3 linked regions of the Homo sapiens genome follow. The protein of the gene in region 3 purifies or fractionates together with the protein of the main gene of each other region. This does not show direct contact. Each region holds a gene or a part of one and is shown on either strand. Other genes may lie near its edges.

What was found.
Region 1: the proteins of SFXN1 (region 3) and TMEM126A fractionate together in Homo sapiens (co-fractionation; one large-scale study listed by BioGRID). This does not show direct contact.
Region 2: the proteins of SFXN1 (region 3) and DDI1 purify together in Homo sapiens (affinity purification with mass spectrometry; 3 studies listed by BioGRID and IntAct, with this or other methods). This does not show direct contact.

Annotation. Positions count from the first base shown.
Region 1 is NC_000011.10:85,650,878-85,654,150, reverse strand, and holds part of TMEM126A (transmembrane protein 126A), read right to left. Parts: intron 89-3,273; coding exon 1-88. UniProt on the Homo sapiens protein: Protein required for the cotranslational protein quality control in the inner membrane of the mitochondria.
Region 2 is NC_000011.10:104,035,022-104,038,856, reverse strand, and holds the start of DDI1 (protein DDI1 homolog 1), read right to left. Parts: upstream 2,218-3,835; 5' UTR 2,035-2,217; coding exon 844-2,034; 3' UTR 1-843. UniProt on the Homo sapiens protein: Probable aspartic protease. Seems to act as a proteasomal shuttle which links the proteasome and replication fork proteins like RTF2. Required, with DDI2, for cellular survival following replication stress.
Region 3 is NC_000005.10:175,502,560-175,506,059, forward strand, and holds part of SFXN1 (sideroflexin-1), read left to right. Parts: intron 1-3,500. UniProt on the Homo sapiens protein: Amino acid transporter importing serine, an essential substrate of the mitochondrial branch of the one-carbon pathway, into mitochondria.

The sequences.
Region 1 (3,273 bases), on a different chromosome or scaffold from region 3:
CAAGATGCGTCGAAAAAGACTGTTTGCTATGAGGCCACAAAGAGCAGCATTTAATCCAACATAAACCGATCCATTTTCAAGTAGATTCCTGAAAGGGTGAGAAGAAAGAACTTTTCTTTGGCATTATTGTGTGTGTGAGCTTTCCCGATCTTGACATGTGTTATAGGACTTTGGGAATACACTAACTGGATACGACATCTATCCCTTATAGAACCAAAATCTTAAAAATTGCTTTATATATAGGTTTTTGCTCTTCTCCCAGCAGCCAGTGGGTGCCTCTCCTGAGCTCCCATAATAATTAATACTTAACCTCTCTAGCACAACACATTACAAGACAGTACTATCTTATATAATCACCGATTTACATGTCAGGCTTCTACACTAGTCTTTAAACAACCAGAAGACAATGGATACAAAGATGTATTCAGCCTGACACAGAAGATGTTCAATAATGTGGAGTTAATGTGATTTCTTTCACTCTTCCCTGAAACATTAGTGTCAGGATTGGGAGTATTAACATTTAAGCAATACCCTATGCTAGGTACTTTATAACAACCCATTGATGAGAAATAAACTGATGTTTTCAGGTAGTGGTAGAACTGGATTTGAAGCCAGGTTATGTATGAACTTTTAACTTATGTCCTATGCATTCTTTAGTTTTGGGAAAAAGTAATACCTAACATGATTGCTGAATATTGAAAATACTGACTCCAAACTTTTCAGACTACGACTTAGCTTTTTTACCACTTACATTGCCATCTACAATACAGTCTTAAGATTTTCATTACTCTTAACTAGCCAAAGTAGCCACAGAGTACCTCCTCTAACTTCTATGGCTTACACTCATCTTAAAATAGCTTTTCTAGGAACTCAGCTTCCTACGTTGTATAAGGTATTGCTTTTCTTATCTGACACTTTGCAATCATGATGCCTGTCACTCATTGAGAACCCCACTGTATGCAGCAGACTTAGTGCTAAAGGCACAAAAAATTACCTTCTATCTTCAAGGTTAACATAGTTAAATATTACTGGAGAAGAAAGAGATGTAAACGAGATATAACAGAAGTCTATGAAAATGGTAATGGTGGTACAAGACAGTGGCAGTTCAGGAACTTGGAGTACATAGATTATAATTAGTGATGACAGTCTGGAGAACCTACCAACCACAAAAACCATGTAAATGTGAAAAGCCTATTTTTTTTTTGTGGGGGTTGGAATAAAAAACTTGAACACTTCCTCTAAAATATTTCATCATAAAAATCATGTGAAATGTATATTATCCCCATTTTAAATCCCAATGCTCAGGTAAACAATTTGCCTGTATGTATATATAATATATATAAAATACATATATACATGTTATATATAAGTCCATTTGTTTACAAGTATGTTACATATACAAATAAATAAAAAGTAGTACAAGTGAAATCTGCATAGCAAACTTTGCTCTCTCCCAACCAGATTTTTCCCATAGCTAAGGTCAAAATGTTTAGTTAATTAAAAGTTAGCACAAAATTGTTACCTAGCAGCCCCTTGCCAGTTTTCCAAAAAAGTACCTATACCAACTAAAAACTCATGACTTTTTGATAAGACATACACAAGAAATAGACATGAAATAGCCCAAATTTAACAAATGACAAACATGTACGTGAAAGTATTGCTGTAGATCAGAAAATGAAGTTTTTGATATTAAGAAAGCTCCATACACTGAAGGACATGCCAAGTAACCATTAAATACCTGATTAATAATCCAAGAAGAAATGAAGATTTAAACTTAGAAAATAAAATGGGAATGAAGAGAAAAAATAGGAACAAGGCAAAGATAACAGGACACTGTAATCTGCCTAGTTTAGATGCCAATGATTGAAACATTTATTGCCTCTAAACTAAATTTTACTTTGCAGTTCCAGGTATTCTTTCTAATTTGGTAAAGAACCCAGTGACAGACTGCTTTCTTCTCTTCAAAGCTGCCACCATCTACTCTTTTTTGAGACAGTCTTGCTCTGTCGCCCAGGCTGGAGTGCAGTGGCATGATCTCAGCTCCATGCAACATCCGCCTCCCAGGTTCAAACAATTCTCGTGCCTCAGCTTCTCCAGTGGGTAGGACTACAGGCACGTGCCCCCACATCTGGCTAATTTTTGTATTTTTAGTAGAGATAGGGTTTCGCCATGTTGGCCAGGCTAGTCTTAAACTCCTGACCTCAGGTGACCAGCCCGCCTCCGCCTCCCAAAGTGCTGGGATTACAGGTGTGAGCCACCATGCCCAGCCTACTACTCTTTTATTAGTCTTTCTCACTTTCCCTATCTTGCTGGCCTGGAAACATGGACATAGTTCCTTTTTTGCTTTAAAAGGTTTTCCGTTACCTCAGGAAAACAACTAGAAGGGAGTGGAGTTGGAGTGTGGGGAGGGGGGGTGAAAGAGCTTTTAAGATCTCACCAAGTTCTTACTACTGGCCTTTTTTTTCTTCCCCTTGGAGATCCTTGTTCTGAACACTACTGGTCTTGATTTATGGGTTCTCCCTGATTAAGATGGTAAGTGGCAGCAAGATGGGGATTTGTTCAGTTTCTATTCCTGAAGATAGCAAGATTATGCTTCCAGAATGTATTTTAAATGCATCCTCTTTTCATCTCAGCTGTCACCACCCCTACCATCTCCACTCACCAGGATTACTGTGCCATTTTTTCTACTGGTATTTGTGTTTCCTTTCTTTCCTACCTCAAATCTGCTTTCCAAAAAGCAGCTGGAATGTTCTTTAGAAATGCTAACATCATCCCCCTGCTCAAAACTATTCCTGGTCCTTACTCCCACTTCCTTAGTACTTCGGTAACAATGGTTACTCAAGTACCACAAGCCTTGGCTATCTTGTGGCTAGGCATATGCCATTCCCTCTACTTAAGACACTGTCCCTCTCTCCTTCCCAGGTGGCTGCTTTTCATCCTTTTATAGTCAGAGAGACCTTCTTGACTGTCAACAAAGTGTAAGACATTTTGTGGAAGTACACATTAGCTGCCTGGCAAAGATTAGTATGTTCCCTATATTGGTTTTTCTCTTTAATATCTTTTTTTTTTTTTTTTTTTTTTGAGACGGATCCTCACTCTTGTCGCCCAGGCTGGGGTGTAGTGGTGTGATCTCGGCTCACTGCAACCTCCGCCTCCCTGGTTCAAGCAATTCTCCTGCCTCAGCCTCCCAAGTAGCTGGGATTACAGGCACCTGCCACCACGCCCAGCTAATTTTTGTACTTTTAGTAGAGATGAGGTTTCACCATGTTGGCC
Region 2 (3,835 bases), on a different chromosome or scaffold from region 3:
GTTGCAATGACTATTAGAGAACCTGGACCACTGCCTGTCCCCACCTCTCATTCCCACCACTGTACAACTTGACTCCCAAGAAGTACCATAATTTCTTTTTTAAAAAATCTAATTTATTGCCTTTGTTTTATAGCCAGAGTTTCTTTGAATGCAGGAGAAATAGAAAATTAATGTAGCATCCTTGGAGATAAATCCACTTTCTCAAATATGGCAAAAATAGTCTTTAGCTGTGGATTGCAGGGTGACTGCAGGGGATCCAGGGGAAGGGAAGGTGTAAATATGAGGAAATTGGTCTTTATGCTGCCCCAAACAGACATGTATAAGTATTAGTTAACATCATAGTGTAACTGACCTACCATTTCTAATACCCTTCCCAAAGAAAACAAAACCTGTGAAAATGGGCATATTTCTCTCAGTAGAAAGAATTATTAGTGCTGATGTGAAATAGTTTTATGTGGATGCCTTGTAAGGTCTGCAGCCATAGCATTTTTCCAGGGAATTCTGCAAAATAGCAATGATTTGGATAAGCCACCTGTAATCTGATAGGATAGTGTCTCTAAAGGAAGAAGCTGGTTTTCTTTTTCATGGATTATCTGGAAATCAGCTGGAGCCTCCAGAGCCTTCCCAGGATGCCTTTCAGTGATCTCTGGACAAGGGAAATGGAAGAGGGACCAAGACCAAGGAATCAGGATTGACGTTAGTTACCCATCTGAGAACGTAGTCCCAAGGCCAGGTTTAGTTGTTACTGATGTTTTTTAATGATTACATTGCCAGTAAGCTCTTAACTTATAATTGCCGGGGACCTGAGGCTCCCTCAAGGTGGTAACATATTTATAACGTGCTTTAATGCTCTTTTCGTCCTGAATCCATGACTGAATGTGTAATTTCCTTGTCCGAAGACTCATCTTGCCCACTTACCATCCTAGAGCATAAGGGCAACTCTCCCTCAGGAAGAAAATAAGTCTGCGTGCCAGTGGTGCCGATGACCAGCACATTTTTCTTCAAATCGATGGAACATTGATGTCTCCGGAGCATATCTAGGCCTAGAAGCATATCCATGGGTTGATCCTCAAGTATGGAGAAAGAGCACTGTAAGAAATCACCTTCAATTTGAATCTGAGCTAGATGAACACGGCCAATAATTCTCTGTGTGCCCACTCCTTTAGCAACCCCAGCCCACCGTCGGTCCACCAGCCTCATGATGTTACATCGCTCGGCACAAGCCTGGCTCATAATGGTCATCTGGGCGCCCGAGTCAACAAAAGCCTTCAAAGGATGCCCATTCACTTTGCAGTTAATGTAGAGCATCGTCACTTGTCCAAAACTCTCGGGGGCCTCTTCTATCGCTATATTCATGTTTTCTTCAATGTTTTGCTGCCGGATTTCCTCTTCTATTTTGGCCTGAGCTTCCCGATCCAGTGGGTCGGCTGTGTAGAGACGAAGCCTCTCTTGCTCTCTCAAGGCCTTTTCCCTTTGCTGCTCCATCAGCACCTGAGAAAAGGTCTCAAGGCTTCCGCTGAGCAGGGCTTCCGCCAAGGGAGGGTTGCGTTCCTTGAGCAGGGACAGATCGTGGGGGTTGGAGAGCAGCATGCTGCGGATCAGGGCGGGGCTGCCCAGACCTTGCAGGCCGGCCACCTTCTCTCCTGACGCCAAGCCCTGTGACCGCTGGGCAGCGGGTGTGCGCTGCTGCTGCTGTCCAGGGTGCTGTGGACGGGAGCTGGACGTCCCAGGCACCGCAATGCCACTGAAGTCTACACGAGGCTGGTTCGGGGCACGCCCTGGAGCCCGAGGTCCCACATTGTCCTTCTGCAGTAAAACCACGATATCGCCATCTTTGAGGCCGTAGGAGCCCAGGGAACAGTGGTCCTCGATGAGGAGTCGCTCCATGTGGATGATCTGGATCTCTTCGACGGGGACTCTGGACTCCGCTTCGCAGAGGACCTTGAAGTTTCGGAGCTCAAAGTCGGGGCTGACCTGGAGAGAGAAGGTGACCTCGGAGAGGTCCCTCCGCACGCAGTACACGGTGATCAGCATGGCGGGGGCCCGGGCGGGCCGGGCTAGCAGAGGGCATGGGCGGCTCACTGGCGGGCTGGGGCGGGCCTGCGTCGTTGGTGCCGCTGCTCCTCAGGACTTGGTAGGTAGGGACCGTCCGGGCTCATTCACCTCTCAGAGAGGCGCGGACACTCATCTGTCTGGGGGCTGTCTCCCAGCCTCAGTGCCTGCTGTGTGGCCAGGTGGAGCCTTGAGGTAGCACGTTGTGTTCCAAAGTCCATTTCTAAGTGTGCTGTTTGGAACCTAGAATGCCTACTCCCATGGATACACGATGGCTCAAAGCTGTCAGGTTTCAAGGCCAGCCCTTCAAAGCCTATTTAACACATGATATGAAAGAAATGATTTCAACACATTTTTTTTTGAGACAGGATCTTATCCTGTCACCCAGGCTGGAGTACAGTGGCATAATCACAGCTCACTGTAGCCTCGACCTCGTAGGCTCAAGCAGTCCTCCTCTCTCAGCCTCCTGAAAAGCTGGAACTACAGGCACAGTCTACCATGCCCGGCTAATTGTTGTATTTTTTTTTAATAGATTTGGGGTCTCACTGTGTTGTCCGGGCTGGCCTCCAACTCCTGGGCTCAAGCAATCCCCCACACTTCGGCCTCCCAAAGTGCTGGAATTACAGGTGTGAGCCACCATGCCTAGTTTTTCAACACTTTCTAAACAGCATATTATCATTTGTTTTGTTCATTTTAGAGTTGTATTCTTTGTACTTTTGTTTTTTCCCCAAACAGTAAGGATTTGTTTCTTACATGGCAAGTACCATTCTATGTGCATAGTAGGAAAGTCAGATTTGGAGCCTGCCCTTGAGGAGCTCACATTTCTGGAAAGGGATAGACAGGTGAATGGGTAATCACAATACTAAAGGCAAAATCTTTTACAAAGACATGTTCAGGGTACTGCCTTTAGTATCACCAACAGAACAGAGGATATTTTCCTAAGGAGGAGACAAGCTGGATGTTGAAGGATGAGCATCTTCCAGGTGCAAAGTGGTCTCACTCCAAAGGAAAGCAGTTTCATGTTACAAAAGCAGGAATTTATGGCAAGGGCTGTTATTTCTAGAGAAAGATGAGACATTTTGTGCAATAAAAAAATTGTACATGACTTTGAATACCAGGATATGAAGCTGGAAAAAAATTAGTTGAGCCAATTGATGAAGTCATATGTGAATCTACGGAGTTTAAATATTAAATATTATCAATTAGCAAGAATTCCTCCTCCAAAAAAAAAAAAAAAAAAAAAGAAAAAGAAGTAAGGAAGGAAAGGAAAGGGAAAAGATTTGAAGCAGGTGTTTGTGATTTTTTTTTTTAAATTGACTTAAGGAAGAGGCTTCTTGCAACACATGGAGGACATAATGTGGCAGGAGGGCCAGTCAGGAGGCTTTTCCAGTGGTTCAAAGAGGGAGCTGTTGCTAGAGTGTGGAAAGTCAGGAGGCCCAAAGCCAAAGCAGTAGAGAATAAACATGTTTCTTGAGTAAAATGGACAGAGTGTGCATACCCCTTGGAGGTGGGGAGTGTAAAAAAGTGGAATGTGTGGATAACACAGAGGGTCTCTAAAATGGGATATAGGGTAGATGGGCCATTGCCTTGAAGGGGAATGAATGAATGAGTGAGATGAACCTTTGAGGTGACCCATTTGACATCAGTTCTGTAGGAAAATTCATTAAGGATGCCACCCTAGAGGCCAATATGCCTCTCTCTGACATTTGGGCACAGCCACCTTCTCCCTACTCTCCCCCACCCCCACTTACACACACACACATACAAGGCTGTCATGGTGAAA
Region 3 (3,500 bases):
CCGGGCACAGTGGCTCATGCCTGTAATCCCAGCACTTGGGGAGGCGGAGGCGGGAGGATTGCCTGAGCTCAGGAGTTCAAGACCAGCCTGGACAACATGGAGAAACCATGTCTCTACTAAAAATATAAAAAATTAGCCGGGCATGGTGGCACATGCCTGTAATCCCAGCTACCTGGGAGGCTGAGGCAGGAGAATCGCTTGAACCCGGGAAGCAAAGGTTGCGATGAGCCAAGATCACGCCATTGCACTCCAGCCTGGGCAACAAGAACAAAACTCTATCTCAAAATAATAATAATAATAATAATAAATAAATAAATAACTGGTACATCCATCCATCGAACAGATTAACCAACTCATATAAACAACAGGGTGCTTCTCAAAAGTGTTATGCAAAGTCAAAGAGGTCAGACACAAAATACACAAAATATGTATCTACTCACTGTATGATTCCATTTGTGTGAAATTCTTGAAAAGGTAATATAGTGTTAGAAAACAGATCCATTGGTTGGCAGGAAGTGAGGAAATAACTCCAGAGGGGCCCAAGGGAACTGTTGGAGACATGGAAATATCCTGTACCACAATTCCGGGGCGGTTACACCACTGAGTATATTTTTTCAAAACTTAGCAAATTGGACACTTAAAGTGGATGACTTTTATGGTATTTAAATTATACCTCAATAAAGCTGATTTAATTTTAAAATGTTACAAGATCATAGAAAAAAAGGAAATGCTTCCCGATTCATTGCAACCCTGATACAATAAATGATTTAAAAAATACAAAAAGAAACAGTGGCCTGTCTTACAAATTGATAATGCAAAAATCCAAAGTAAAACACCAACACATAGCATCCAACCTTGTGTTAAAACATGAACTGGTAGAATTTATTCCGAGAATGAAAAGGTGATTTATATTTAGGACATTTATTAGTGTAATTTATCACATCAATATGTCAGAGCAAAAAAGCCACATCTTGATAGATGCCCAAAAGAAGGTAAAATTATATATCTATTTCCCATAAAATAATTAATCAGCTAGGCATAATGGGTGGTACTTCTTTAATTATGAAGAATGCATATCCCACATCAGTAGTGAGCAATGCACGAAATAATGGAACACTAGAGCTGAACTTCCCAAAAAGACCTCTAAAGGAAAGGAACCCTGGCCGGGCGTGGTGGCTCACGCCCATAATCCCAACACTTTGAGAGGCCAAGGCAAGTGGATCACCAGAGGTCAGGAATTCGAGACCAGCCTGGCTAACATGGTGAAACCCCGTTTCTACTAAAAATACAAAAAATTATCCAGGCATGGTGGCACGCACCTGTAATCCCAGCTACTCGGGAGGCTGAGGCAGGAGAATTGCTTGAACCTGGGAGGTAGAGGTTGCAGTAGCCGAGATTGCGCCATTGCACTCTAGCTTGGGAAACAAGAGTGACACTCCATCTCAAAAAAAAAAAAAAAAAGGGATCCTATGGAATACTTAAAGAAAGAAAAGAGGGGGGTGGGGGAAGGGAGAGAGGGATCAAGAGAGGCAGAGAGAAAAAGGGAGAGGATTTTGGTAGTCAAATTTGAGAAAGTTTGCATTCCACTCTTGAGAATGTCACATTCTATTAACTGTTCGAAGTTTCCAAAAAGTCCAGGAGTGAAAATAAAGCTGCTTAATCATTTTTCCCAAACTTGGACATGAGCCCTTTGTTTTTTTTCCATAATGTATGTAATATGTATGAGAATACTCGGCCAGGCGAGGTGGCTCACGCCTGTAATCCCAGCACTTTGGGAGGCCAGGGCAGGCAAATCACCTGAGGTCAGGAGTTCAACACCAGCCTGGCCAACATGGTGAAACCCCGTCTCTACTACAAACACAAAAACTAACCGGGCGTGGTGGCGCACACCTGTAGTCGCAGGTACTCCAGAGGCTGAGGCAGGAGAATCGCTTGAACCTGGGAGGTGAAGGTTGCAGTGAGCCAACATTGCATAACTGCACTCCAGCCTGGCAACAGAGCAAGACTCCATCTCAAAAAAAAAAAAAAGAAGAGACCATAACCAACTGAACAACCATAGAACAAATTAAAATACAATGAGGGGGCTATTTATAATAGACACAATGGTAGTTTCCTGTATAAAAGCAACAAGCAATTAGACATTGTTTTTTATTCACTTCATAAGAACAATTTTTTTTGGGCGGGGAGGGTGCGGAGTCTTGCTCTGTCGCCCAGGCTGGAGTGCAGTGGCGCGATCTTGGTTCACTGCAAGCTCTGCCTCCCGGGTTCACGCCATTCTCCTGCCTCAGCCTCCTGAGTAGCTGGGGCTACAGGCGCCCGCCACCACGCCCAGCTGATTTTTTGTATTTTTAGTAGAGACGAGATTTCACAGTGTTAGCCAGAATGGTCTTGATCTCCTGACTTCATGATCCACCTGCCTCGGTCTCCCAAAGTACTGGGATTACAGGCATGAGCCATCGCACCCGGCCAGAACAATTTTTTAAAAATGTAAAGTACTTGGGAAGAAACGCACCCAGAAATTTGCGTCAATGATGAAAACATTTGGAATCATGTTAAGTTTGAGTAAATGGAGAAATGTGCAGTAGGCCTGGGGAGAAAGGCTGGAGATTGTAGAGGTGTCAGTTGTCTCCAGATTAATACGATTTCAGTCAAATTACAACTGTGGTCACCTGTAAAACTGATAAAATAATTCTGACCGGGTGCAGTGACTCATGCCTGTTATCCCAGCACTTTGGGAGGCCGAGGCAGGGGCATCACCTGAGGTTAAGAGTTCAAGACCAGCCTGGCCAACATGGTGAAACCCCATCTCTACTAAAAATACAAAAAAAAAAGCTGAATGTGGTGGCGGGTGCCTGTAATCCCAGTTACCCAGGAGGCCGGGGCAGGAGCATTGCTTGAACCCAGGAGGCGGAGGTTGCAGTGAGCCAAGATCACGCCATTGCATTCCAGCCTGGGCGACAAGAGTGCAACTCCATCACAATAATAATAATAATAATAATAATAATAATAATAATTCTAAGGTTTATCTGGGAGAATAAATTAGTATAAGGCATCTTAGAAAAAGAAAAAGAAGAATAGCGTGTGGGACGGTTGCTCTACCCAAGATTAAAATTGACTGTCAAGTTAAAATGGTGGGTATTGGCATCAGAATATGTAGATAAGTGGAAACACAATAGAAAGTCTAGAAATCAAGGCTGGTATTCACAAACTCTCAACTGATGCAGGCCAGCCAAAAGAGAAAGTTAAGAATGTTTCACATTTTCTTTTCTTTTCTTTTGAGACTTAGTTTCATTCTTGTTGCCCAGGCTGGAGTGCAGTGGCACTGTCTTGACTCACTGCAATCTCTGCCTCCCGGGTTCAAGCAATTCTGCCTCAGCTTTCCGAGCAGCTGGGATTATAGGCGCCTGCCACCATGCCCAGCTAAGTTTTATATTTTTTAGTAGAGATGGGATTTCACCATGTTGGCCAGGCTGGTGTCAAACTCCTGACCTCAGGTGATC